Regions from separate parts of the Homo sapiens genome. Here region 1 is linked to region 2. Evidence: fine-mapped expression QTL. A gene starts in region 2. The other region holds a variant in brackets. All regions are shown on one strand. Distances are between the middles of the regions.

What was found. PIP is the estimated chance that this variant, and not a neighbour inherited with it, causes the effect.
Region 1: its variant is fine-mapped to the expression of MFN2 in whole blood (INTERVAL, PIP 0.91).

Annotation. Positions count from the first base shown.
Region 1 is chr1:12,010,205-12,021,695 of GRCh38, reverse strand. MFN2 (mitofusin 2) reads right to left here. Exons shown (of 19, transcript NM_014874.4): 19 at 8,188-10,200. The coding sequence ends at 10,131. It overlaps MIIP (migration and invasion inhibitory protein), which reads right to left and starts at 2,198. Exons shown (of 10, transcript NM_021933.4): 1 at 2,144-2,198; 2 at 1-51. RefSeq lists enhancers at 670-1,540, 2,289-2,368, 1,541-2,411, 2,489-2,538. The variant AT/T (reference allele first, on the strand shown) is at 6,690.
Region 2 is chr1:11,973,900-11,990,276 of GRCh38, reverse strand. It overlaps MFN2 (mitofusin 2), which reads right to left and starts at 9,833. Exons shown (of 19, transcript NM_014874.4): 1 at 9,793-9,833; 2 at 8,163-8,307; 3 at 934-1,112. The coding sequence starts at 1,108. It overlaps PLOD1 (procollagen-lysine,2-oxoglutarate 5-dioxygenase 1), which reads right to left. Exons shown (of 19, transcript NM_000302.4): 19 at 14,740-15,624. The coding sequence ends at 15,469. RefSeq lists an enhancer at 7,992-8,091 and silencers at 9,548-9,787, 9,958-10,217.

The DNA of each region.
Region 1 (11,491 bases), 34 kb before region 2:
CCTGGGCCGCAGGATGTCCTCAGGGCTGGGTTCCAGGCCCAGCTCTTCTACCTGAAGTCAAGACAGCAGGACACGGGGCTCAGTAGGGTGCCCTGTGGTGCCAGAGACCCCCATTCGACACTCTTTAACTGTACTGCCTCAGGCAAGTTATTTAACTTCTCTGTGCCTCAGTTTCCTCATCTGCTGGACGACAACAGTATCTACCTCATACGATTGTTGTTAGAATTAAAGAAAGCATGTTAAGCCTGGACAACATTTGTAGAAACATTTTTTTTTGTTTTGTTTTTTTGTTTTTTTTTTTTGAGATGGAGTCTTGCTCTGTCGCCCAGGCTGGAGTGCAGTGGCGCAATCTCGGCTCACTGCAAGCTCCGCCTCCCGGGTTCACGCCATTCTCCTGCCTCAGCCTCCTGAGTAGCTGGGACTACAGGCGCCTGCCACCACGCCCAGCTAATTTTTTGTATTTTTAGTAGAGACGGGGTTTCACCGTGTTAGCCAGGATGGTCTCGATCTCATGACCTTGTGATCCGCCTGCCTCGGTCTCCCAAAGTGCTGGGATTACAGGCATGAGCTACAGTGCCTGGCCAAAAAAAAATTTAATTAGCTGGCCATGGTGGCACTTGTCTGTGGCCCCAGCTACTCAGGAGGATAGCTTTAGCCCAGGAGACCCAGGCTGCAGTGAGCCATGGTTGCATCACTGTAAAAAAAACAAAAAACAGGCCAAGTGGCTCACGTCTGTAATCCCAGCACTTTGGGAGGCTGAGGCAGGAGGATCACCTGAGGTCAGGAGTTTGAGATGAGCCTAGCCAACGTGGCGAGAGACCTCGTCGCTACTAAAAATGCAAAAATTAGCCGGGCGTGGTGGCACGCGCCTGTAATCCCAGCTACTCGGGAGGCTGAGGCAGGAGAATCACCTGAACCCGGGAGGCAGAGGTTGCGGTGAGCCGAGATCGCACCATTGCGCTCCAGCCTGGGCGACAGGGTGAGACTCCGTCTCAAAAACAGCAACAACAACAAACAATTAGCCGGGTGTGGTGGTGGGCGCCAGTAATCCCAGCTACTCAGGAGGCTGCTGAGGCAGGAGAATCGCTTGAACCTGGGAGGCGGAGGTTGTAGTGAGTGGAGATCACACTACTGCACTCCAGCCTGGGTGACAGAGCAAGACTGTCACACACACACACAAAATACAAAAAACAAAGCACTCAGTACAGTGCTTACTTAATACAGTGCTTACAGTGGTATACAGTAAGCATTCAATAAACGTCTATTATTACCAAAATGGCTGGGGCAAGGGCATGCTTCCTTTTTTTCTTGGCTCACTGCAACCTCCGCCTCCTGGGCAGTGGTTTGGACAAGCTTGCTTTATAACTGGTGAGTCCAACACAAATCAGGCTTCAAAAGGGATTCTTCCTCCTTTCCTGCCCTCCCTTCCTCCTTCACTTTCTTTTTACATATGAAGAAACCAAAGCTCAGGGAAGTTAAGCAACTTGCCCCAAGTCACACAGCTAGCAAGAGGCTAGATCTGAACCAAAATTTGACTCCAGGGTCCATGAGTTCAGGGTTCTTGGAAAGCCTTTCCCTGGAAGTGTGGGGGAGCCTGGGAAAACTCCGCCTCCTCCTCCCAGCCCTTGCCCCCCACCTCCAAGGATCCTCAGGATCGGGTGCAAGGTCTGGAGCACAGAGTAGCCGACTACCCCGGAACCTCCCCCACACACGTATATTACCCCGCAGGGCCGGGGGGCACGGAGATGCAGTCCAGAGGGGCCAACTGTTTGATCCGCAGGACAAAGATCCCGGCCCCCACCCCTAACTGGCCAAGTGGCTCTGGGCCACACCCCTATAGTCAGAGGGTCGCCGTTTTCGCACGGGGTCAAAGGGCACAGCAGGCCTTGCCCTCCCCTGGCCCCGGCCGCGCTTTGGAAAGGGAAAAGCTGAGCGGAGACACCGGGAAAGCGACGCTCCAGAAACACCGGGGCCGCAGAAGTAACAGAGGGCGAGCGGGCGGACGCCGAGGCGGGACCCCCGCAGAGGCAGATGCAGCCTACCCTTCTTTTCCACTGCGGCCCCCGAGCCCCTCGCGGGAATGCACGTGGGGCCTCCTGCCGAGCCCTTCCGCCCCACCCCAGTCCTGCCGCCCAGCACTCACCCGGCAGAATCCCCTAGCATGCGCCGCCGTAGCAGCCGCAGCCGCCTGAGCCGTTCCAGGGGCCTCGGCCGGCCGTCTTGATTGGTCAGGTGAGGGGCAGGGCCGGGACGTCTGGTGAGCGTTACTCGGCGATCCGAAGTGTCAGTTTCAGCGTGGGGGCGGGACTAAGAGCGGAGCTACACAACCGATTGGTCAATTTTCGAGGCCGGTGCGGAGGTCGATTCCTGGAATGGGGCGGGCCCCGGAAGGGCGAGCTCCGATTGGTCAGCTGCGGGACTGGATACGCTGAGTTCAGCAGCGGCAGTTTCAGTCAGGCTGGGCGGCCTAGGCTCGGCGCAGGCGGCAGTCCGGAGCGGCGGGGTAGGTGGGGCAGGCGGCTGGCTACTCATTGTACTCATCGTTTCATACTTTTCTTTTTTTTTTTTTTTTTGGAGACGGAGTCTCACTCTGTTGCCCAGGCTGGAGTGCAGTGGCGCGATCTCGGCTCACCACAATCTCTGCCTCCCGAGTTCAAGCGATTGATTCTCCTGCCTCAGCCTCCCGAGTAGCTGGGACTACAGGCGAGCGCCACCATGCCCGGCTTTTTTTTTTTTTTTTTTTTTTTTTTTTTTTTTTTTTGTATTTTTAGTAGAGACAGGGTTTCACTATGTTGGCCAGGCTGGTCTCGAACTCCTGACCTCGTGATCCGCCCGCCCCGGCCTCCCAAAATGCTGGGATTACAGGCATGAGCCACTGCGCCCGGCCTGCTTTATACTTTCATTCAGGTTTTTAGCGAGTGCCCGCTTTGCGCCAGAAGATAAGGACTACACAGTAAACAAGAAAGTGTAGTATTGGGGCCGGCCGCGGTTGCTCACGCCAGTAAACCTAAAAATACAAAAATTAGCCGGGCGAGGTGGCCGGCGCCTGTAATCCCAGCTACTAGGGAGGCTGAGGCAGGAGAATCGCTTGAACCCAGCTACTAGGGAGGCAGAGATTGCAGTGAACCGAGATCGCGCCACTGCACTCCAGCCTGGATGACAGAGCAAGACGCAAGACTCCATCTCAAAAAAGAAAAAAAAAAAAAAGATACCCAGCCTGGGCAACATGGCAAAACCCCGTCTCTACAAAAAATGAGCCAGGCACGTACCTGTAGTCCAGCTACTCGGGAGGCTGAGATGGGAGGATCACCTGAGTCCAAGAGGCTGAGGCTGTGGTGAGCTTTGATTGCACCACTGCACTCCACCCTGACTGAGAGACCCTGTCTCAATAAATAAATTAATTTAAAAAAGAAAGAAAGTGTGGTATTGGCGTCCAGGTAGACAAATGGATCAATGCAACAGAATAGAGTTCCGATATGTGAGCAATTAATTTTTGACAAAAATGAAAGTGCAATTCAGTGGAGAAAGGATAATGCCTTCGGCCCGGGGCGGTGGCTCACGCCTGTAATCCCAGCGCTTTGGGATGCCGAGGTGGGCAGATGGCTTGAGGTAAGGAGTTACAGCCCAGCGACACCCAGCACCCCCCCCAAAAAAATTTATTTTATCAATAATGTGTGTGGAAACTTGGGAAAACAAGAAGAGATGGTGTCTTCAACAAATGTTGTAGGTATAATTGGATATCCACACACTCATCCTAAAAAAAAAAAAAAGAAACCCATATGCAAAAATTAACCTAGAATGGATCATAGATCTAGTTGTGAAACCTAAACTATATAACTTAGAAAAACTGGGGCCGGGCGCAGTGGCCCACGCCTGTAATCCCAGCACTTTGGGAGGCCGAGGCGGGTGGATCACCTGAGGTCAGGAGTTCAAGATCAGCTTGGGCAACATGGCGAAACCCCGTCTCTACTAAAAATACAAAAATTGGCTGGGCGCGGTGGCTTACGTCTGTAATCCCAGCACTTTGGGAGGTCCAGGCAGGCGGATCACCTGAGGTCGGGAGTTCCAGACCAGCCTGACCAACATGGAGAAACCCCGTCTCTACTAAAAATACAAAATTAGCCGGGCATGGTGGCGCATACCTGTAATCCCAGCTGCTCGGGAGGCTGAGGCAGGAGAATCGCTTGAACCCGGGAGGCGGAGGTCGTGGTGAGCCAAAATCGCACCATTGCACTCCAGCCTGGGCAACAAGAGTGAAACTCTGTCTCAAATTAAAAAAAAAAAAAAAAAAGAATGAAAAGAAGATAGGTAGCCCCTCTACCTCCAGAAGAGCCGAGGGTGATAACACCAGGCACCGAGCTAGCAGGAAGCCCTCCGACTCAAGAAGATGGCTGATCCTTGGCAGGAATGCATGGATTATGCAGTAACTCTAGCAAGATGAGCTGGAGAGGTAGTTTGTGATGCTCTAAAAAATGAAATGAGGCCGGGCACGACGTCTCAGGCCTGTAATCCCAGCACTTTGGGAGGCCAAGGCGGGCGGATCAGTTGAGGTCAGGAATTTGAAACCAGCCTGGCTAACATGGTGAAACCCCGTCTCTATTAAAAATAGAAAAAAATTAGCCGGGTGTGGTGGTGGGCACCTGTAATCCCAGCTACTCGAGAGGCTGAGGCAGGAGAATGGCTTGAACCTGGGAGGCGGAGGTTGCAGTGAGCCGCGATTGTGCCACGGCACTCCAGCCTGGGTGACAGAGTAAGACTGTCTCAAAAAAAAAAAAAAAAAAAACTATATATATATATGAACCCACATTCACTACTGGTGGGGATATAAGACAGTATAACCACTTCACAAAATCTGTAGAAGTTAAACATAAATTTACCATATGGCCCAGCAAGTCCAGCCTGAGATATCTACCTACAAAAAATGAAAACATCTGCCTACACAGAGATTTGAACACTAATGTTCCTAGCAGAAATACGCATAATGTTGTCTAGAAGATCACCAGGGTGGCTAAATAGTAGAAAGGAGCACTTTATTGTTGATACTTGTTTGCAAACCAGGAAGAGATGGTTTGCAGCATGCACTGAAGGTGCTCTCTTCCAAGAGAGAAAGGACAGGTTGGGTTTTATGCCTCACAGGGCCCATATTCATACATATTTAGCAGGTTTGAGGGAAAAGCTGTATACATATTTATGAGAGGAGGTGAGCTCATGTGCATTGGCTAAACAGGTTGTTCACAGCTTCTGTAAGCTGGCTGAAACTGGCTTAAGTTCTGCAGTTGCTTATCAGAAAAGAATGTTTATTGGCTGGGTGTGATGGCTCATGCCTGTAGTTCCGGCACTCTGGGAGGCTGGGGCAGGAGGATCACTTGAGCTTGGGAATTAGAGGCCAGCCTGGGCAACACAGTAAGATCCCATCTATTTTTTTTTTTTTTTTTTGAGACGGGGTCTCATTCTGTTGCCTAGGTTGGAGTGCAGTGATGCAATCTCGGCTCACTGCAGCCTCCACCTCCTGGGTTCAAGTGATTCTCCTACCTCAGCCCCCGGAATAGCTGGGACTACCAGTGCACACCACCATGCTGGGCTAATTTTTGTATTTTTTGTAGAGACAGGGTTTTGCCAGATTGCCCAGGCTGGTCTCAAACTCATGAATTCAAGCGATCCTCTCACCTCAGCCTCCCAAAGTGCTGGGATTACAGGCATGAGGCACTGTGCCCAGCCAACATACATTCTCTATTTGAAAAATTAAATTAAAAAAAGAAAAAGAATATTTGTGTCCAGACATGGTGGCTCACACCTATAATCCCAGCACTTTGGGAGGCCAAGGTGTGAGGATCATTTGAGATCAGGAGTTCGAAACCAGCCTGAGTAACATAGTGAGATCCCTCGTCTCTACAAAAAAACAAAAAATTATCCGGGCATGGTGGCGCACACTTTTAATCCCAGCTATTCGGGAGGCTAAGGTGAGAGGATCACTTGAGTCTGGGAGGTCAAGTCTGCAGTGAGCCGTGATTGCGCCACTGCACTCCAGCCAACAAAAACCTACCTCAAAAAAAAAAAAAAAGTTTGTCAGACCGGTCCCCTGTGTAATCAGAGGCATAAGGGTTTGGTTTGTAAATCAAGACTTGAGATAATTTGCCTGATGGCTCCTGATGTTAGGGAGTTTAGCGAGTATGTTGTTTTTCTTTGTAACTGAAAAAGGTTACTAATCAGTGAGTGAGATTTTTGTTGTTGTTGTTGTTGTTTTGAGAGGGAGCCTCCCTCTGTTGCCAGGCTGGAGCGCAATGGCGTGATCTCGGCTCATTGCAACCCCCACCTCCCAGGTTTAAGCAATTCTCCTGCCTCAGCCACCCTAGTATCTGGGATTACAGGTGCACGCCACCAAGCCTGGCTAATTTTTGTATTTCTAGTAGAGATGGGGTTTCACCATGTTGGCCAGGCTGGTCTTGAACTCCTGACCTCGTGATCCGCCCACCTCCCAAAAGTGTTGGGATTACAGGCGTGAGCCATCGCGTCTGGCCCCAGGGGCAGATTTTTATCCACCTTAGTCACTGCTATATCTCCAGTGCTTAGAACCATGCTTAGCACATAGTAAGTGCACAAATATTTTGCTGAATTAATGAACTTCCTCATTTGAGGAAATTAGGGAAAATAGACCATTGGATTTTGAGATTAGGGCTCATGCGTATGAA[AT/T]GTCTGACATACTAAACTCTCAAAGTTCGCTGTTCTTATCTCAAGCCTAAGAGTCCCACTTAGACACAGGAAACCATCCACTTGAGGACACGGTGAACAACTTAGCTGACATCTGCGAGGAGGGCCCTGCTTCTGAGGCCACATTATGAAGCCAGATGCTCTCCGAGAGAGCTGCCTGGGCTGTCACCCCAGTGCTTGGGACACAGTGGAACATTCCTGACTACCTACTTTTTGTGATTAAATAGGGACATTGTTACCAGAGGGCTAAAACTTCCAGCCTCTCAGATTCGCCAGTGGACAGATGAGGTAGTCAGAGAAAGCACAGGAATGAGGCTGGCCTTGACTGGGAATAACTAAGCAGCATTTGCATAAGGCAAGAAGGCCCTTTTTCAAACTATGGCTCATCACCCGGGATGATGCTGTCGTGAACAATTTAGTGGGTTGTACATAACATCTTGTTAATGACAGAAACTACTTGTTTTGTGGATTGCAAAAAAAAAAAAGGTAATGATTCATTTTTTTTTTGTTACCTGAGAAAGTCTTTGGCTGCTGCCTTGAAACAGCCACAAGATGGCGAGGATAGGCGGGGACAAGGCAGGAACAGGAACCTAGATCCGGGCTGATGGTTATGATGGAGGTGAGGAAACTGGGCAGGGTCAACAGACTTGGAAGACAGCAGGTGACAGATTTGGTGCAGCACGTGTGACCGTGGACTCGAGGGTGATGCCCCAAGTGTGTAGCCTGGGAATCTGGAAGGATGAGGTTGCTATCAGCTGAGCTGTGGCCTCTGTGGGCGAGCAGGGCGGACACTGGGCAGCACCAGAGCCAAGAGGACAGCTGTAGGGGCGGGGAAACTGACTGACTACCCCTGTATCTACTCCTGAGGACCCTTAAAAAAAAAAAGAAAAAAAAGCGGTGGCTCACACCTGTAATGCCAGCACTTTGGGAGACCGAGGCAGGTGGGTCACAAGGTCAGGAGTTTGAGACCAGTATGGCCAAGATGATGAAACCCTGTCTCTACTAAAATACCAAAATTAGCCAGGCCTGGTGGTCGGCGCCTGTAATCCCAGCTGCTTGGGAGGCTGAGGCAGAGAACTGCTTGAACCCGGGAGGCGGAGCTTGCAGCGAGCCGAGATCGTGCCACTGCACTCCAGCCTGGGCGACAGAGCGTGACTCCATCTCAAAAAAGAAAAAAAAAAAAAAGAATAGTGGCAACCAAATTCTCAGAAGGCAAAGCAGGATGGAACAGTGAGTCATTTACTTTTTAAGTGAAAAATGGTCTGGAGTTACAGAGAAATCTGTAAAGAAATCAGTCTCGATTTCCTGATCCTTAAAGATCAGTTAAACCATCTGTTCTTTTGAGAGTATCAAATTCCTTCCAAGAATAAGGAGCCAGATTATAGTGGGAACTTCCCCAAAGTTATGGTCACTTCAGAATACAGCTGGCCATGTCAAAGAGGAGTTTGTACAAGAACCCAAAAAGACAGATCTCACAAAGGATTTCCAACTAGGTTTTATTTTAGTTTCCAATATTATGAGCAATGATACAGGAGTAACTCAAGCAAATACATCACCTTAAATACATCAGAGAAAACTCACTGTGTCAGCACGTCTTGCGCTCCAGCAAATGAACATAAAAACAACAATGTCAGCAGCATTAAAGTGCTTTTGGCCATACTTCTTTCAGAAAGGGTCTCTCCCTCAGTGGTATAAATTTAATTTTACGTATTGAAGAAGCTCAAAATTTCATTCATTCCCCAGGGGCTACATTGAAAAAAAATTCATGTTTACGCTAAAGAATTTTTTTTTTTCAAAAAGAGCACAAAATCCATTGGAATTGTGTGACAGTGATTTTCCCTGACATGCTGTGAAGTGGCCCCTGTCCATTCAGGCCCGGCACACGCCGGGAACATCCACCCACAGCATGTCCACCTGGCAGAGTCCATCACTTCGCCCCACACAACAGGACAGACTGAGGGCTTTAAATACAAGCAGGTATGTGAACAGGACATCACCTGTGATGTGGCCACCAAACAGTGCACAGAGGCTACCAACTCATTTCCTCAAAGATGAGTGATGGCTGGGCTGCTGGGCCCCTGCCTTGTGGGCTGCTTTTTGGGAGAGGTGTTGCTTATTTCTAGGAAGCGATCCAACTTGTGCCACACAGGATTTGTCACCCAAACTGCTTTTCTCACACAGTCAACACCTTGGTGACAGGCATCTGCCCCCACTTCAACCAGTAACAATCCCAAAACTCAACATCAGCATAAAGACAAGGGGGTCAGTCGAAGGTTCTGGAGATCAGGGAGGGTGGAAAGATGGACACTGGGTTTTCCACATTGTCCCTTGGCCAACTGCAGTCACTGGCACAGGAAATTTAGTCCAGGGCACTTGGGACAAGGTTGGGGGTGGGGTGGAAACATGTCTCTTAAAGGGCACAACAGGGATGCAATCAAGCCTAGTGGGTGGGGGCTCTCAGACCCATGAGCCCCTCGCAGAACGAGGCCAAGTGGACGGCCCATTCTCCAGCTGTCCTGTGTGGGGCCCATGCACCTCAGCCAGCCACCAACGTCCCCACCTTCCACCATCCATCCTTCTACTACATCCTTCAACCACCTAGACCATGCCATCTTCCAAAACAGATCTACACAAAACAGGCCTGCACAAGTCCAGGACTGACACTAAAGCAAAGGACACAATAATGAGAAGAGAGGCAAGTCCCTCCTTGTCCCAGTGACTGCCACCTGCTCTGCCAGCTCCCCATACATCCAACAGCCCTCCCCTCTGAGCTACTCCCACTCCTCCAGCTGCCTCAGCAGCATCCTTTCTACCACCCCCAGCACAGGGCCCGCCTCAGCCTAAGCCCAGGGGTAACTGAGCCTCACCACCAAGACGTGTCTGAGGCTCTGCAAATGGGATGAAGCACTGAGCCAACAGGCGAGATGGACACACACAAGCCACAGTCCTTCTGGGACAGACTCTCTGGGAAGAAACTCCAATCGTCCCTTACACCTGCAGGTGTGCTGGGCTGCAAGGAGGGCAGGTGCGCACAGGCTGGAGGAAGGTGGGGGTGTCTGTGTGATACCCTCAAAGGCTTCCATGAGGCATTGTGCAATGCTGAGATCCTGAGGCCTTATCAAGCAATCAAATGAACCAGAGAAAGCTGGAAAAAGCCTCAACTTAACTCCTTGGTACCATGCTGTCCATAGCTGTCGCTGAAAGTGTCCTTTGGGGGTATGAGCCAGCTCTTCCAGCAACAGCAGGCAAAGGTGGGGGAAAATAAGTAGTGCTGGAGGGCTCAAAATGGTACGAGACTGGGTGCTTCATTCTCTTGGCAGTGGCCAGGGGGCAGGAGCCACACGTGCCCCTGGGGGAGCCCACATGGCACTTAGGGCTGGCAGCACCGCCCCTCTCCACGCAGACTCCGCCTCAGGTGCCCACTATCTGCTGGGCTGCAGGTACTGGTGTGTGAACATGTTGAGCTCACTGTCCAACCAACCGGCTTTATTCCTGCAAAGAAATGGTTCTTTTGTAACCATGATAGCTGATGATAGGCAGTATTAGGACTACCCGCCAGGCACCATCCTAAGGACGCTTGACACACACCCTTACATCATCCTCCAACAATCGTGTTTATCCCTGTCTCACAGATGGGGAAAAGGAGGCCCAGAGGGGTTAAATAACTTCCCAAGGCCACACGGCTAATAAGCCAGGGAGCTACAAGTTAGGCTTTTCTGATTCTCAAGCCCTGTGTTTCCTTCACCCAGGACCATGTGCAAGTCCCTGAGCTGTCGGGAACTCAGTTTCCCTGCTTGCCAAGCAAGGGGTTGAGGTGCTGACAGGAGACCCTTTCCAGGTTCAGCTGTGTCACTGTGGCTGACAAGCAGCAGTTCCCCCCATTCCCCCTTTCTGAGAGTCCCCAGAGGGCAAGCAGTGTGTCCCTAGGAAGCAGCTGTCCCCAGGTGGGGGTGCGGGGGGGGCACATCCGCAGTCGAGGGCAGGGAAAGCCCAGTGATCCGGTGAGGGTTGGAGCTGACACCCTCTGATCCATCTCCCCTCTGGCTCTGCCACCCTGCAGACTCTGACGTCAGGGGCGAGGGCAGGAAGTGCAGGGTCCCCGTGTGCTGATGCTATCATGGGCTAGGCAGGCCGAGGACTTCTGCAGGGTCCCCGTGTGCTGATGTTATCATGAGCTGGGCAGGCCGAGGACTTTTGCAGGGCACTTTTACATTCAGTCATGCAGCTGTGTCATGAAATCTTACTCCCATTTTACAGATGAAAATAATGAGACACAGGAGAGTTAAGAGCTTGGGCCAAACATGAGTGGCTGGAGAGAACCCAGGACTCCAGACTCCTCAGACTGATGTTCTTTCCAGCAAATTATTAATGAAAGCTCCACAGAGACCCCATGGAGATCTGAGTTCCAATCCCAGCTCTGCCAGTCCCCAGCCAAGTAACCAGCTTCTCTGTGGGTAAATGGGGGGCTATGCCCTCTTCATGGGTCCAAAGAGTGGCAGGTAAGGAGAATCAGAGTGCGGGGGCTGCTGGAGCCAAGTACACCTGGGCTCCCCTCCTAGCCTGGCCATTTTTTGAGATGCCAGACAAGTTCCCCAACATTTCTATGTAGAAAATGGAGAAATAGGGAAGACTGAGTGAAATAGCACATGTTAAGCGCTGTAGGCCCTGCGGTTCAGCACAGGGCGCTGTGAACTGCAGTCTCGCAGTACTGTGATGCCATCATGCCTTCAACTGCAAGTGCCTTGAAGGCAGCGACGCTGTGTCTTGTTGAGCCTCCAGCACC
Region 2 (16,377 bases):
CAGATGAGGGCATGAAGTTGGACAGTCTCTTTCTTCAAAGGGAGCCTCGTGTAGCAGCCTGGCATGTAAAACAACGAGAAGCCAAGCTGCTCTATTTGAAAGCAGAATGGAAAGAAGGTGGCCCCCCTGAGCCAGGGGCCAACCCCCGAAGCACCACCACTGAACTTCTAGGGTTCTGCAGACTAGAATCTGAAACCACTGTTCACACCTGAGCCCCACTTTCACAAGTGAGGAAACCAAGGGCAGATAAGACTCAGTTACTGGGTCTCCACAGACAATCTCAGGACCTGGCGCCAAAGTGTCCTTCTAAAGAGGGAGCCTGAGGAAGCCAGTGCTGGAGTTGACACTCAGACGAGCGGGGCCCTGGGAACCAGTCCTTCTCTGCTGATAGACAAGGAACTAGAGGTTGGGCTCAAATTAGTAACTAGTAGAAAAGGCATAGGTGACGTGAGTTTCCTATAGTTCTGTCACCAATCTAAAAATATCAAAGAAAGGGCGCCCTGGTCAGGGATCACTGACACCCAAACAGTGCCTGGTATTAATGGCAGCCAGAACTAGGCAAAGGAAAACACGTGGGCTCCGGAGTTGGAGACACCTGGGTAAAACCCTGATCTATTACTTACAAGGTATCGGACAACTCTCAAACCTCAATTTGCTTGCCTTGTAGATGGGGATAAGATTCACCTATCTTTCATGATTAAATGAAACAAAACATGTGGACTTCTTAAAGTAATTACTAAATGGCAGTTCCCTTGTCTTCCTGGCCTCATCTCCCCAGACTCCAATTCCACATGATTTCAAGAGCAGAGCATTTCTAAGGCTATCTGGTTATGACTTCCCTGGGAGCAGAGATATACCTCCCCACCCGCAAATCCCACTAGCTAAATATCTAAACAGGTAAGAGCGGGCCTGGCTGAGCCGGTGCCCCCTTACCTTCAAGGAAGGTGGCGCTCTCCTGGATGTAGGCCCCCAGCTGCTCAAAAATGCCATTGATCTTCTTCTTGGCAGTGACAAAGTGCTTAAGTGGGGATGCATTCACCTCAGCCATGTGTCTCTTATTTTTCTTGACTGTGACGATAGAGTTGCATCGAGAGAAGAGCAGGGACATTGCGCTGCAAGAGAAGCTAACGTGAGCGAACCCAGCAACACCTACCTCGGGACATCCTGCTAGGGAGATGGCGGAATGCTTTGGGGAGAATCAAGAATATGGGGATCTCAGGTCACTGCAACCTCCAGGACTAGAACAAAGGACGGTGAGATAAGAACAGTGTCTCAGGCTGGGCGCGGTGGCTCACCCCTGTAATCTCAGAACTTTGGGAGGTTGAGGCAGGTGGATCACCTGAGGTCAGGAGTTCAAGACCAGCCTGGCCAACATGGTGAAACCCCCGTCTCTACTAAAAATACAGTAATTAGCCAGACCCAATGGCACACACCTGTAATCCCAGCTACTTGGGAGGCTGAGACAGGAGAATCACTTGAACCTGGGAGATGGAGGCTGCAATGAACCAAGATCATGCCATTGTACTCCAGCCTGGGTGACAGGGCGAGATTTTGTCTCAAAAAATAAAACAAAATTAGCATGACACAGTGGCATGCATCTGCAGTCCTAGCTACTTGGGAGTCTGAGGTGGGAGGGTCACTTGAGCCCAGGAGTTTCGGCTGCAGTGACCTATGATCAGTCCACTGCACTCTAGCCTGGGAGACAGAGCAAGACCACATAAAAACACTATTGGTTAGGGGCCAGGTTCAGTGGCTCATACCTATAATCCCAGCACTTTGAGAGGCCAAGGCAGGCAGATCACTTGAACTTTGGAGTTCGAGACAAGCCTAGGCAATGTAGGACCCCGTCTCTATTTAAAAAAAAAAAAAAAAACAGCCAGGCATGGTGGGTTATGCCTGTAATCCCAGCACTCTGGGAGGCTGAGGCAAGTGGATCACAAGGTCAGGAGTTCAAGACCAGCCTGGCCAACATGATGAAACCCCGTCTCTACTAAAAATACAAAAAAATATAGCCGGGTGTGGTGGTGGCCGCCTATAATCCCAGCTACTTGGGAGGCTGAGGCAGAGAATTGCTTGAACCTGGGAGGCGGAGGTTGCAGTGAGCCGAGATCGCACCACTGTACTCCAGCCTGGGTGACAGAGCCAGACCAAGTCTCAACAAAGAAAAACACACACACACACACACACACACAAAAACTATTGGTCTATTTTAGTATAGCACAGGTGTGCTACAGAAAATTTGGAAACTGAAGGGGAAAAAAACCCATAACCCCATCATTTTGTGATAAGCAATGTTAACATTTTATTTACTTATTTATTTTTTATTTTGAGACAAGATCTCGCTGTTACCTGGGCTGGAGTGCAGTGGCGCAATCACAGCTCACTGCAGCCTCAACCTCTTGGGTCCAAGCAATCCTCCCACCTCAGCCTCCTGAGTACATGAGACCACAGGCATGCACCACCACGCCCCACTAATTTTTTTAAAATTTTTTGTAGAGACAGGGTCTTCTTATGTTGCCCAGGCTGCTCCCAAACTCTTGGGCTCCAATGATCCTCTCACTTTGGATTCCCAAAGTGTTGGGATTAAAGTGCTGGGATTAAAGGCGTGAGCCACCATGCCCAGCCAACATTTTTTTTTTTTTTTTCTGAGACAGAGTCTTGCTCTATCGCTCAGGCTGGAGTGCTGTGGCATGATCTCGGCTCACTGCAACCACCACCTCCCGAGTTCAAGCTATTCTCCTGCCTCAGCCTCCCAAGCAACTGGGACTACAGGCACTCGCCACCATGCCCGGCTAATTTTTGTATTTTCAGTAGAGGTGGGGTTTCACCATGTTGGCCAGGTAGGTCTTGAACTCCTGACCTCAAATGATCCACCCACCTTGTCCTCCGAAAGTGCTGGGATTACAGGCATGAGCCACCACGCCCGGCCCAACATTTTGTTTATTATAATTTTTTTTTTTTTTTTGAGACAGAGTCTCACTTTTGTCACCCAGGCTGGGTGCAGTGGTGCAATCTCAGCTCACTACAACCTCCACCTCCCAGGTTCAAGCGATCCTCCTGCCTCACTCAGCCTCCTGAGTAGCTTGGAGTACGGGCATGTACCACCACACCCAGCTAATTTTTTTATTTTTCGTAGACAGGGCTTCACCATGTTGGCCAGGCTGGTCTCAAACTCCTGACCTCAAGTGATCCATCTGCTTCGGCCTCCCGAAGTGCTGGGAATACAGGCGTGAGCCACCGTACCCAGCCATATTATCACAGTCTATTTTTGTGTGACTGTCTCTCTTGCTCTCACTCAATCCTACATATCTTTGTAGCTTATCTTTTCATATAACAACATTTTAGAGGTCATGAGACTTGACTCCAAAGTCCTAGAGGTCTTTGGTCAAAGGTCAAAAGAGGCTGGGCATGGTGGCTCACACCTATAATCCCTGCACTTTGGGAGGCCCAGGCGGGTGGATCACTTGAGACCAGCCTGGCCAACATGGTGAAACCCCTTCTCTGCTAAAAATACAAAAATTAGCCAGGCATGGTGGCAGGCACCTGTAATCCCAGCTACTCGGGAGGCTGAGGCACGAGAATTGCTTGAACCTGGGAGCTGGAAGTTGCAGTGAGCTAAGATCGCGCCATTGCACTCCAGCCTGAGCAATAGAGCAAGACTCCATCTCAAAAAAAAAAAAAAAAAGATCAAAAAGAGGCGTACACACCAGAAGGAGTGCCCAGGGTAAGACTGGGAATTCCGACCCCAAAAGTGGACCCCTGCCAGGTCCCTCAGAGTTCCCACCACGGCGAAAGCTACTTCTTGAGCAGAGCCCACCAATCCCAGGAAGTCAAAGGGCAAAGGCCCTCCTGGATGAGGGGGTGTGTGCACAGCTGACTGTGCCTGGGTCTGTCACTGCCTCCCCAGCCACCCTAATCTTACTGCTCAGTTCTCCACCCAGCAGTAAGCTCACTCTCTCTAGATTGGAAATGAGGTGTTGCTCCCCAGCAAGCACACGTGAAAAACTTCCAAATGGGGCCAAAGTATGTTGCACAAGGTCCTGAAAAGCAGAAAGAACACCCGGAAGAGGTACATGAAGACCAAATGCCAAAACGGACTTTTAGTAACTAACCATCCCAAAGAGTGGGCAGAAGACAGACCGACCCAAAGCGGGATAGGGACCCACATGTGTGCCCAAACCAACAAGTTCTTGTGCAATGTTAATGATTCCTCTGGAGACAAGGGAAGGAAGTGACCCCACTTCCGTTTCTACATTCCTCCTCAGCATGACGCCACAGCTATGAGAGATGTTTTCTCAGCATGGAAGCCATATGTCCAGGGCTTAAAGACAGTACAGCTCTGAGAAAGGAAACTGCAAAGAAAATGCTACTCTCACTCTTCCAAAGCAGCAAAGGAGAGTGCGCTGAAATGAGGCTTGCCATGGCCTGGCAGATCAGACTGTTCGAGAAAGAGGGGATGTGGCAGGCACAAGAGGAAAGCCATCCAAAAGGAATAGAAAAGGGATCAGGGGTCAGGCACGGTGGCTCATGCCTGTAATCCCAGCACTTTGGGAGGCCGAGGCAGGCAGCTCACCTGAGGTCAGGAGTTCAAGACCAGTCTAGCCAACATGGTGAAACCCCGTCTCTATGAAAAATACAAAAAATTAGCTGGGTGTGGTGGCGCATGCCTGTAGTCCCAGCTACTCCAGAGGCCAAGGCAGGAGAATCACTTGAACCTGGGAGGTAGAATTTGCAGTGAGCCAAGATCTCGCCACTGTACTCCAGCCTGGGTGACAGAGCGAAGTCTCTCTCTTTAAAAAAAAAAAAAAAAAAAAAAAAAAAGGGATCAAGGATGGGGCATGATATAGCACTACCTATGACAGGTTTTGTAATCAGGCAGAGCTGGGTTCAAATTGTGACTACATTATTTCTGGGCTGCTTAAACTTAAGCAAGTTATTTCATCACAGAACCTTGGTTTCTTCATGTGTACAACAAACAAGACACCTACTGGAGAGAGAAACTGTCTCAAATTATCTTTTTTCTCTACTCTCACACCATAATCATCAACACAAGAGACTTCTGTGACCAAATGTGAGGGGGTTTCTTCCCCACACACCAACCAGCGGACAGCAGCTGGGTATCCTCTCATTCAGTTCCCATGCTGTCTACCTGGAGAGAGTGTCAGATCCCACAGGTTGAGGGCTCAGTCCCCAGGACTGCCCCGCCTCTCCACCACCACCCCTCAAACATACCAGTTGCAAGTCTGGGCCTCCAGAATTTCTCACCGACTGGCTTCAGGCTGGGGTTCCCATGACCCCCTCTTTGAGTTCAATTAATTTGATGGAGCAGCCTACCTAGCCCAGGGAAACACTTACTTACGTTTACCAGGTTATTATGAGGGATATCGCAAAGGATACAGATAAGGAGACGCTTAGGGCGAGGTATGGGGGAAGAGGCGTGTAGTTTCTGTGCCCTCCCTGAGCAGGCCTCTCTCTAGGAACCTCCGTGTGTTCAGCTATCCACAAGCTCCCTGAACTCTGTCCTCTTGGATTTTTATGGAAGCTTCATGACATCAGCATTCCTTCCCCCAGGATACAGGGTCCACCCCTCTCAGGGGAGGGTTTTAAGGCCCACAATCAGGTGGGGAAAGATTAGGGTGGAAGGAGAGCAGAAGGTCAGAGGCCTGCCCCTGAGGCCTAACACATCTAACATTATATCAAAAAACCATAACAAGGGCTGTGGATAGGAGTTATGAGCCTGGATCCGTGGATGAAAACCAATATCCTAATACCACAATACCATCTAAACTGTGAGAAGACTAAAGTTGATGACGCAAGCAACATGCTTCACTACAGTAAGAGCTAAAGGCAGCTTTACATGTTATAAAACAATAACAACAAACTCTACCAGCAAGATCACAAGACTCTCTCCATGAACACCCAGCCTTCAGGGAGGGCAGAGGCAACTCCGCCAACTCACACCACACACACCACTCCCTTACCCGCTATCACGGAGATCAAATAAACAGGTCAGCTGGGGAAGGATCAGCGATACCCCACTCCAGAAGTGACTTGCTGCAGGAAGCAAGTTCCCTGCCATCAGAAGCAGGTGCTTTTAAGTTCTGGTCAATGTTTGCAAGCCCAGGAGATATAAAACCAAAAGCATTAGTGCTCACTAACTGCAAGACTCGACAGCGTGTACACCAGTAGAAGCTTGGGAGCTCCAGGTTACAAGGTCTGCTGGGAGTTCAGCCGGTCCAGGAGCCTCCCTGCTCTCACTAATACCCAGCCTGCAGCTGCATCCAAACCCCTGGCGTAAAACCTACTGTCAACCCCTCCAAACTCTGCCTGATTTATCTGGCTCTGCTAACTTGCAAGCTGAGATTCCACATCTGTGTTGCATGAGCTGCTTTCTGCCTGGAATCCTCCTTCCTTTTCCACCCATTTGGCATACTCCTACTGTCCTTCTAGACCCAACTCAAGTGTCACCCGCTCCATGAAGCCTCCTCTGATGCCTCATAGAGAACAAACAACATCACAGACTTCTGGTTTTTATCACATCCTGTGTTCCCCAATTATCTCAAGGCTTTGACTGCTGACTCCCTACTCCTCCAGGGTGATGCAGGGCAGCTGGGTTCCTCCTCTGCCTCTGGAAAGCCTTGATAATCTCTGCTTCACCACAGACCTTGCCACAGGCACGTGGGGACCATCCTGCAAGCATAGCCTGAGAGCCCAGCTCCAACATCAGTGACACACTAAGCGTCACACTTCAAGCTGTGACTGCCTCATAAGTGCTCTGGAGATTACTGTTTTGGATAGTTTCTGGCAGCACTTCCCAAAGCGTGGTCCACAGAACTCGACTTGCACCCAATATCCCATGTAAAGAAGGTTCAATAGTAGAATCAGTTTGTAAAACACCATATGCTAGGCCAGGCGCGGTGGCTCACGCCTGTAATCCCAGCACTCTGGGAGGCCGAGGTGGGTAGATCACAAGGTCAGGAGTTCGAGACCATCCTGGCTAACACGGTGAAACCCCATCTCTACTAAAACTACAAAAAATTAGCCAGGCATGGCAGCATGCACCTGTAGTACAGCTACTCGGGAGGCTGAGGCAGGAGGATAGTGTGAACCTGGGAGGCAGAGCTTGCAGTGAGCCAAGATCACGCCACTGCAAGATCGCGCCACTGCACTCCAGCCTGGGTGACAGAGCAAGACTCTGTCTCAAAAAAAACAAAAAACAAACAAACAAACAAAAAACACCATATGCTACCATTTTCCTCAGTGGAGCACGTGAGCACAGCAAAAGAGTTTGGGAAGGAAGCCTTGTTGTAAAGACACTAGTTTAACTGTGTTGAATTCAGCATTTCACAAATATAATCAATGAAAAAACCCTTCTGTGTAATAGCTTTTAAAATCCCGAGGATCACACTTTAGGGAAAAGCCCACTCTTTCTGGTACTCTCCTGCCCCTACCCCTAAAAAGTGCCAGGGCACAGTATTAATAAATATTAACCTAAGACCAGAAATGAACCCAGTTCTAAATGGAAACTGCTATTAGCCCTCCAAGGTGGTCAACAGCTTTGCCTCAACCTAGGCTATTCGTTGAGGAGTATTAGGTATCTTGGGTGTAGAGACAGCAGTAGCAAAATTCACTGCAAGGTGTGTTTGGATCCCAAGCACAGTCCCTGAATCCACACCACCTCCTTACCCAGTGTTATGTACAGCAACTCCTAGCAGGGAAAATAAAATGGATCCACGGATCGTCTGCTGGCACAACTGGAAAAGAGGAGAAGCTGAGAAATCGAAACAAAAAGAGTATACAGGGTAAAGGGGACAGAGCAGAGTCTTAAAAGAGCAGTGACAAGGAGCCAACCTGTGCTGGGCCGAGATGGGGAAGAGCCAGCACAGCAGAGACCAAATGAGGGAGACAGAGACTAACTCTTCAGGGAGCCCAAGAGATCCCAGCCACTTCTGAACTGTCAACTTTTAAACAGGCTCTCTAAGCAACCAGCGAAATCCTTCACGGAAGTAAAAGATACGGTAGTTTTTCAACACAAGTTAGAAAGCTGTGGCTCTATACAAAGAGGATGCCATTCAAGAGACTTGCCACCAGAGGTCCAGGAGAGCACACCCCTGTCCACTCAGCTCAAATCCAGGGTGCCAGAAGTCACAGCTACTACTTACTTTTTTGGATGGTGAGAGATCTTCACAGGGTAGGCATCATGGACATGGCTGAAGTCCAAAAGACAAAAAGATTCTGAGTTCTCTTCTGTCCTGTCTCAGGTTGAGGTTGGCTATTGATTGACTGTGTTGACTCCACCAGTCCTGACTTATTAGAAAAGAAAAGGGAGATGGATCCGGTGTCCAAAAAAAAAAAACACTGGTGTACAAAACATGTCTAATCAGGTTTCAAGCCAAACAAACTCATCCCTGAGGGAAGCTTACTCATTGAGGTATTGGGGAGTTGCGCTGGCATGTGAGGAAGTGCCCTGGGGAAAAAAACGCAGAGGTGTGGGACCAATCCTGACTGTGCACACGTATTCCGCCATGTGCGGGTTTGAGGCACCACGGAGGTCCCTGCAGGAGCCCTGGGAAAGGTACATCCAGAGAGGGGAGAAGAGGACAGAGCAAAACTAGGAACAAAACTGGGCTTGAGGACTGTGGAACAGCTGACTATTGAGGAACAGAAGAACTGACTGAAAGCCAATGTGTTCAGCTACTGTAAAGTATCTCACTTAATTCTCTATTCTGTGGGACAGAGGGCTGGAATACTTGAAGATTTGTCTAAGCTGGGATCTGAAATATTAGCTCCCTTTGACTCCAAAGCTCCTGGAGTGCAGCAGCGCGATCTCGGCTCAACCTCCGCCTCCCGGGTTCAAGCGATTCTCCTGCCTCAGCCTCCTGAGTAGATGGGATTACAGGCGTGTGCCAGCAAGCCCGGCTAGTTTTTGGTTTTAGCACAGACGGGGTTTCACCATGTTGGCCAGGCTGGTCTCCAACTCCTGACCTCAGGTGATCCGCCCGCCTCAGCCTCCCAAAGTGCTGGGATTACAGGTGTGATCCACTGCGACCGGCCTCCTTCCTTTTTTAACTACATTGAGCTGCCTTCCTCCCCCAAGCCCCAAACCTTGGGACACCAGAGGCGGATAACCAGAGCCCTTTTCTGGGTAGAAAAGAGATAACCAGAGCCCTTTTCTGGGTAGAAGAGAGAGAGATGATTGAGAATTTAAAGAGGGCAATGAAGGATTACGAGAGGGGGTAACGGGCAGTTCTGCCTTCGTGCGTCTTAACAGCTATTTATTCAACATTTTCTGTGTGCCTTCTCTGTGTGTGTCAGGCGCCACGTTAGAAATGGATAAGAAACAGTCCTGCCCTCCAGGGCCTTACAGTCCGGTGAGAAGTCATATAAGTAAACAGGGCTGAACGAGAAGGCAGTAACTGCCCAAAGTGGGGATGGCAGGGCGCTCCCGCGGTGAACGTGGACACCTATCAGGTGCTGAGTAAATGCTGGCAAAATGAAGACAGGATGAAAAATAGAGAAGGGGCAGGGGTAGAACATGGCCGTGAAGGGTGGAAAGGCGGGGGCGATGAGAAGCTACAGGGGACCCCACCGACCAGTCCCAGGTCCCGTGGCCCGCCCCCTCCTCTCAGGGCCGGGGAGGGCCCGGCGGCGAGGCCGGAGAGTGGGGACCCCGCTTGACTGCATCCCAGACCCCCGTGGCCCCAGAATCCCGTCGGCCCACGCCGAGCTGCTCAGGACTCGCCGGGCCGGGCCGGGCCAGTCCCCGCCACCCCGGCTTGCTCGCCCTCTCACCTTCACCTTCCCGGCCTCGCGGCGGCCATCACACTCACTACGTCACCAGCGAGCGCCACCCCAGGGGGAGGCGGGAGGAGGGAAGTGGATAAGCGCGTCACCAGTCGCCTCAGATTGCCCCTCGACCCGGGTGAGCTGGTGGACCCTGAGCCCAGCCGGCTCGCCCCGCCTACTCCTTACGCCTCTGCTGCCCCGCGACTCGGCGCTTCGAGCGGCGTCTCAGCGCGCCACTCCTCCGCGCGCCACTCCTCCGCCGGCGCGTCCCAAGCGGACGACGCAGAGGCTCGGACTCCCACTGCATCATGGGGGCTGTAGTTCCGGTGGGCGTCGGCCGGAGCTGGGGGGGCGGGGCAAAGCGGGGCGGAGCCTCAAGCTGTCAAGGGGCGAAAAACCAAGGGCGTGGAGTAGAGGTTCCCGCTTTTTCGCCGGTTGTCCTAGAGCCTGACCCTGGGGCCTCTGCCAGCTCTGGAATCCAGATTTGCATTCTGTAATCTTAGAGGAGTGTTCTCTAGAGGGCCAGGCCTAGGGTGAAGTGACTCATCGGGCAGACAGAAGCGAGCATGGGCCTGCTGCCCTTCAGTCGCCTTTGAGGAAAGAAGAGCAGCAACAACGGCGAATCAATGCCAGTGACTGAACTGCGTCTCTAACATCCACCGCTGTATTTAACGTCCACAGCAGTCCCAGGAGAGGGAGAGGAGAGGTTACCCAAGCTCACATGGTTACCCAGATCACCGGGCCCCAGTGATGCGGCAGACACTACTAGGAAACCGCAGCAAACAGATCCCTTGCAGGACTTGGCCTCCGCAGAGAAGGCTCCAAGCCTGAGCGCGCCAGAACAGTAGGCACTAGCCACGTGTGGCTCTCGAGTCCTGAGCCAGTGCAAACGGAGATGCGCTATAAGACTTAGGACAAAAAAGGCTGTTAAACTATCTCAATTTTTAGGAAAAAAAAATATCGACCGGGCGCGGTGGCTCAAGCCTGTAATTCCAGCATTTTAGGAGGGCGAGGCGGGTGCATCGGGAGTTCAAGACCAGCCTGGCCAACATGGTGAAACCCCGTCTGTACTAAAAATACAAAAATTAGCCAGGCATGATAGTGCACTCGGGAGGAAGAGGCAGGAGAATCGCTTGAACACGGGCGGTGGAGGTTGCAGTGAGCCGAGATCATGCCACTGCACTCCAGCCTGGGCAACAGAGACTCCGTCTCAAAAAAGAAAAAAAAAATCTATCTTTGAGCCAGAGTCTCACTCTCACTCAAGCTGGAGTGCAGTGGTGCAATCACGGCTCACTGCAGCCTCGAACTCCTGGGCTCAAGTAATCCTCCCACCTCACTCAGCCTCCCAAGTAGCTGACCACAGATGCTGCAGCCATGCCTAGTATTTATCTTTTGTAGACATGGGGAAGCATTTCACTTTGTTACCCAGGCTGGTGTCCTGAACTCCTGGACTCCTGGAGTCAAGCAATCTTCTCCTGCCTCGGCTTCCCAAAATGCCGGGTTACAGGTACCTGCCACAGTGCAGGGCTATTAGCCCATTACTATTTATATGCTGACTACATGTTGAAGTGATAATATTTTGGGTCATTTGGGTTAAATACATTACTAAGATTAATTGCACCTGTTTCTTTTTAAAAATGTCGCTACTAGAAAATTTAAAATTACATAAGTAGCTTGCATTTGTGGGTCAAACTGTAATTCTGTGGGATGGTGCTGCTCTATAACCATGGTAGAACAACCTCAATTTATTGCCACAAACAACCTCAAGAGGCAAATCAGTACTCTGATATAGAAGTGACTGGTTTATCAGTCTCATGACGATGGCCAAAGGGAGCTGTCCTGCCCACACTGCCCTCTGAGTAGCCTAGTGCCCCGCGGGTCTGACTGTGGACTGTGGGGCCACACGCAGACTCAGCCTCAGGGTGTAGACAGGGCCCTGTCTGGGATGTAGCGTGCCTTGGGGCCTCAGCTGCTAGCTGCCTGGTACTGGGTCGGATTGTTTCCTCCTCCACAATCTCTGGACTCCCTAAGGAGAGGAACTCTAAATTCCACTTCCATTCTCTGAGGGCAGGAACTATAAATTCCATTTCCTCTTTTTTTTTTTTTTTCTTTTTTTTTGAGAAAGAGTCTCGCTCTCACTCTGTTGCCCAGACTGGAGCTCAGTGGCACCATCTTGGCTCACCGCAACCTCCGCCTCAGGCAATTCTCCCGCCTCAGTCTCCCCACTAGCTGGGATTACAGGCGTGCACCACCATGCCTGGCTAATTTTTGTATTTTTAGTAGAGATGGGGTTTCACCATGTTGGCCAGGCTGGTCTCAAACTCCTGACCTCAGGTGATCCACCCGCCTCAGCCTCCCAAAGTGCTGGGATTACAGGTGTGAGCCACCACGCCCAGCCTTCCTTTTCCTTTTTAGCAGAATCTTGCCCGTCAGGTGAAAGCCTGGATGTTCTCTCTCCTAAACATCTCCCCTGCCCACTCCCTCCTCTTCCCTAAATTTCCCTGCAAGCATTGGTCTAGGTCCTGGTCACTTGCCTGGACTGCTGTAGGAACCTCTGAATCCATTCCCAGGCATTTAGTCTTGTACTCTGCCCAGCAGCTGGGCTTTATCTCTGAAACACATCTGCATACTTGCCCAGCAAGTAGAGGAAATCTCAGTTTGGAGATATGTTTCAACCCATTAACATGTGTTTCTCATTGAGATGGCTGAATCCTCGTTTCAACCCTCGGGATGACAAAACTCTCCTAGCAGTGCTGAGTGTTATTGGGAATGGGTGCAGAGCACACTGATGTACAACTCCAGGAGACCTTTCTTTCTTACGTTTTTGTTTTTTTTTTTAAGACAAGAGTCTTGCTCTCTCACCCAGGCTGGAGTGCAGTGGCACAATCTCAACTCACTACAACCTCTGCCTCCCGGGTTCAAGCGATTCTCGTGCTGCAGCCTCCTGAGTAGTTGGGTTTACAGGCATGTGCCATAAAGCCCACCTTATTTTTGTATTTTTAATAGAGACAGGGTTTTGCCATGTTGGCCATGCTGGTTGAGAATTCCTGGCCTCAAGTGATCCTACCACCTCAGCCTCCCAAAGCGCTGGGATTACAGGCATGAGCCACTGCACCCGGTCCATATTACTTTTTGTTGTTGTTGTTGTTGACAGGTTATTGCTCTGTCACCCACGCTGGAGTGTAGTGGTGCAATCTTGGCTCACTGCAACCTCCACCTCCCAGGTTCAAGTGATTCTCCCAGCTCAGCCTCCCAAGTAGCTGGGATTACAGGCACCTGCCACCACACCTGGCTAATTTTTGTATTTTTTTGTAGAGATGGGGGTTTTGCCATGTTGGCCAGGCTGGTCTCAAACTCTTGACCACAAGTGATCCACCCGCCTCAGCCTCCCAAAGTACTGGGATTACAGATGTGAGCCACAGCATCCGGCCCCCCATGTTACCTATTTTGTTTGACTTTTTCATGGTGAAGATGAGTTTGTAATCAGAAAAAAGTTAACAGTTAAAAACAACCCTATGCCGGGCACAGTGGCTCACACCTGTAATGCCAGCACTTTGGGAGGCCGAGGCAGGTGGATCATCTGAGGTCAGGAGTTGGAGACCACCGTGGCCAACATGGTGAAACCTCATATCTACTAAAAATACAAAAACTAGCTGGGCGTGGTGGCGGGTGCCTGTAATCCCAGCTACTCGGGAAGCTGAGGCACGAGAATTGCTTGAACCCGGGAGGCAGAGGTTGCAGTGAGCCGAGATCATGCCATTGCACTCCAGCCTGGGCGACAGAGTGAGACTCCATCTCAAAAACAAAAACAAAAATAACCCTAACATACACAAACACACACACAGGCTTGTGTCGGCACAAACCAGCTCAAGAACGTTCAAAAAACAGATTAGACATGGTGGCTTTCAGAGAGAGGAACTGAGCAGCTGGGGGGAAAGGATGACAGAAAGATTAAGATTTGTGCTGTTTGAATTTACAATGAGTCAATTTTGAAAATGAAAAGACTAAAAAATCTTTTTTTTTTTTTAATTGAGATGGAGTCTTGCTCTGTCACCCAGACTGGAGTGCAGTGGCCCAATCTTGGCTCATTGCAACCTCCACCACCTGGGTTCAAGCGATTCTCCTGCCTCAGCCTCCCGAGTAGCTGGGATTACAGGCGCATGCCAACACAACCGGCTGATTTTTTCATATTATTAGTAGAGACAGGGTTTCGCCACGTTGCCCAGGCTGGTCTCAAACTCCTGACCTCAGGTAATCCGCCTGCCTCAGCCTAAGTGCTGGGATTACAGGTGTGAGCCACTGTGCCTGGCCTCAAAAATCTTTTTTAAAAGACTTTCAGGCCTGGGATGGTGGCTCACGCCTGTAATCCAGTACTTTGGGAGGCCGAGGCGGATGGATCACCTGAGGTCAGGAGTTCGAGACCAGCCTGGCCAACACGGTGAAATGAAACCCCGTTTCTACAAAAAATACAAAAATGTGTCAGGCATGGATACCTATAATCCCAGCTACTCAGGGGTCGAGAGGCTAGCATGACCTTTCTTAAAGGCTCTAAAAAGAGGGCTCTTGGCCGGGCACGGTGGCTCATGCCTGTAATCCCAGCACTTTGGGAGGCCGAGGTGGGTGGATCATCTGAGGTCAGGAGTTCAAGACCAGCCAGACCAACCTGGTGAAACCCTTTCTTTAATAAAAAAACAAAAATTAGCCAGGCGTGGTGATGGGTGCCTGTAGCCCCAGCTGCTCGGAAGGCTGAGGCAGGAGAATTACTTGAACCCAGGAGGCGGGGGTTGCAGAAAGCGGGGATAGCGTCATTGCACTCCAGCCTGGAAGACAGAGTGAGACTCTGTCTCAAAAAAAGAAAAAAAAAAAAAAAGAGGGCTCTTAAAACCTCTCTCCCTGCAGACACTCACACCAAGACACACACACACCCACTCGCCCTGAGCATCTTCCCTTCAGTGGTTTAAATGACCTTTAATAGAAACTCTCCAGTTTCTGACGGTCTGTCCCTCTCTTCAGAGGCATCCAGGACAGGGTGACCCAGTGTGGTGTGTGGACCTGTCACTCCCCTCCCCACAGGCAAGTAGAAGATCGAGCTGTGCACAGATGCCTCTTCTGTCTCCCAAGAGGTTCTCTGGAGTCGCTGTCTCCAGGGGACTACGGTTTGCTCTCATGACCAGCCATGGAGGCAGAAGTCCCAGACTCAGGGCAGCCCTTGGAGTCTGATCCAGGTGTCTTTACCCCAAAACTTGAAGCAGAAGTCCCTGGTGCAACACCTGTGCCTGGGAGAAGCTCTGGCCATGGCTTCTCACCCAGACAGTCTTTCTGGGCAACTTGGGGAAGCCCCTGTTCTGCTCAAGTCTCACCCCATGGAAGAGGTGGGGGAAGGGGGCCTTGGTTTTTCAGGAAGACAGGTTGGAGAGCACGAGTCACTACAAAGCAGTAAAAGTGAATGGTGTCTCCAGGGGCTGGGTCCAGAACACCACGGAGAGCCCCAGCCATAAAGGTGTGTTCCGCCTCTGGCCTGCAGGAATCTCTTTGAATCTCTTTGATTGGTGGCTCCAAGAGCAATGGGAAGTCAACAGCCAGGAGGCTGGACTGGGTTCCCTGGGACCCCGAGGTCCCAGAGGCTGCTGGGCAGTGGTTGTCGGCAAAGAAGAAAGGTCCAAGAGGGTCAGGCCTGGCCAATTAGGGATCGACGAAGGAGACTGCGATGTAGCGGGTGCCCCTGGTGGTGGGGAGCCCCTCATGGTAATGCGTGAGTCGTCCAGGGTGCATGAGGGTCCAGCCCTTCCTTGGGGCTCGGATGGAACAGTTGTAGCGCAGGAACCGACAGCCCCCGCCCTGGGAGACAGAAAGCATCAGTGGCCTTTCCCCACCGCCCCCCTGCCCGTCTGTTCTCCCGTCATGATCTCCTGTCATGGCCAAGTGGCCCTCAGCACTGCCTGCCTGGGGATGCCTTCTGGAGTGACAGCCACAAGCGCTGCTAAGGAAGACACTAAATGAAGAGTAGTGGCCAGGAGTGGTGGCTCACGCCTGTAATCCCAGCACTTTGGCAGGCCAAGGCGGGTGGACCACCTGAGGTCAGGAGTTCAAGACCAGCATGGCCAACATGGTGAGACCCCATCTCTACTAAAAATACAAAAACCAGCTGGGTGTAGCAGCGCACGCCTGTAATCCCAGCTATTCGGGAAGCTGAGACAGAATCACTTGAACCCAGGAGGCAGTGAGCCGAGATCGCGCCACTGTACTCCAGCCTGGGCAACAGAATGAGACTGTCTCAAAAAAAAAAAAACCCAAAGAGTAAGTGATCAAGAGCTCTGTCCTTGGAGTCAGGCAGCCCTGGGCAGACATCACCTCCACTCTTTACTAACTGTGACCAACCTGAGCTTCAGTTTCCCCTTCTGTAAAATGAGGGTTAAACAGAACAGGATAGTGAGAATTAAATGAGATGTTACAATTGAGAGCTGAGGATCAAGCTTCCCAACCTCACCACTATAGACACTTTGCTGTGGAAGGCTGTCCCGGGCATCTCTGACTTCTACCCACTAGATGCCAGTAGCCCCTCATAGTTGTAAAAACCAATTATGTCTCCAG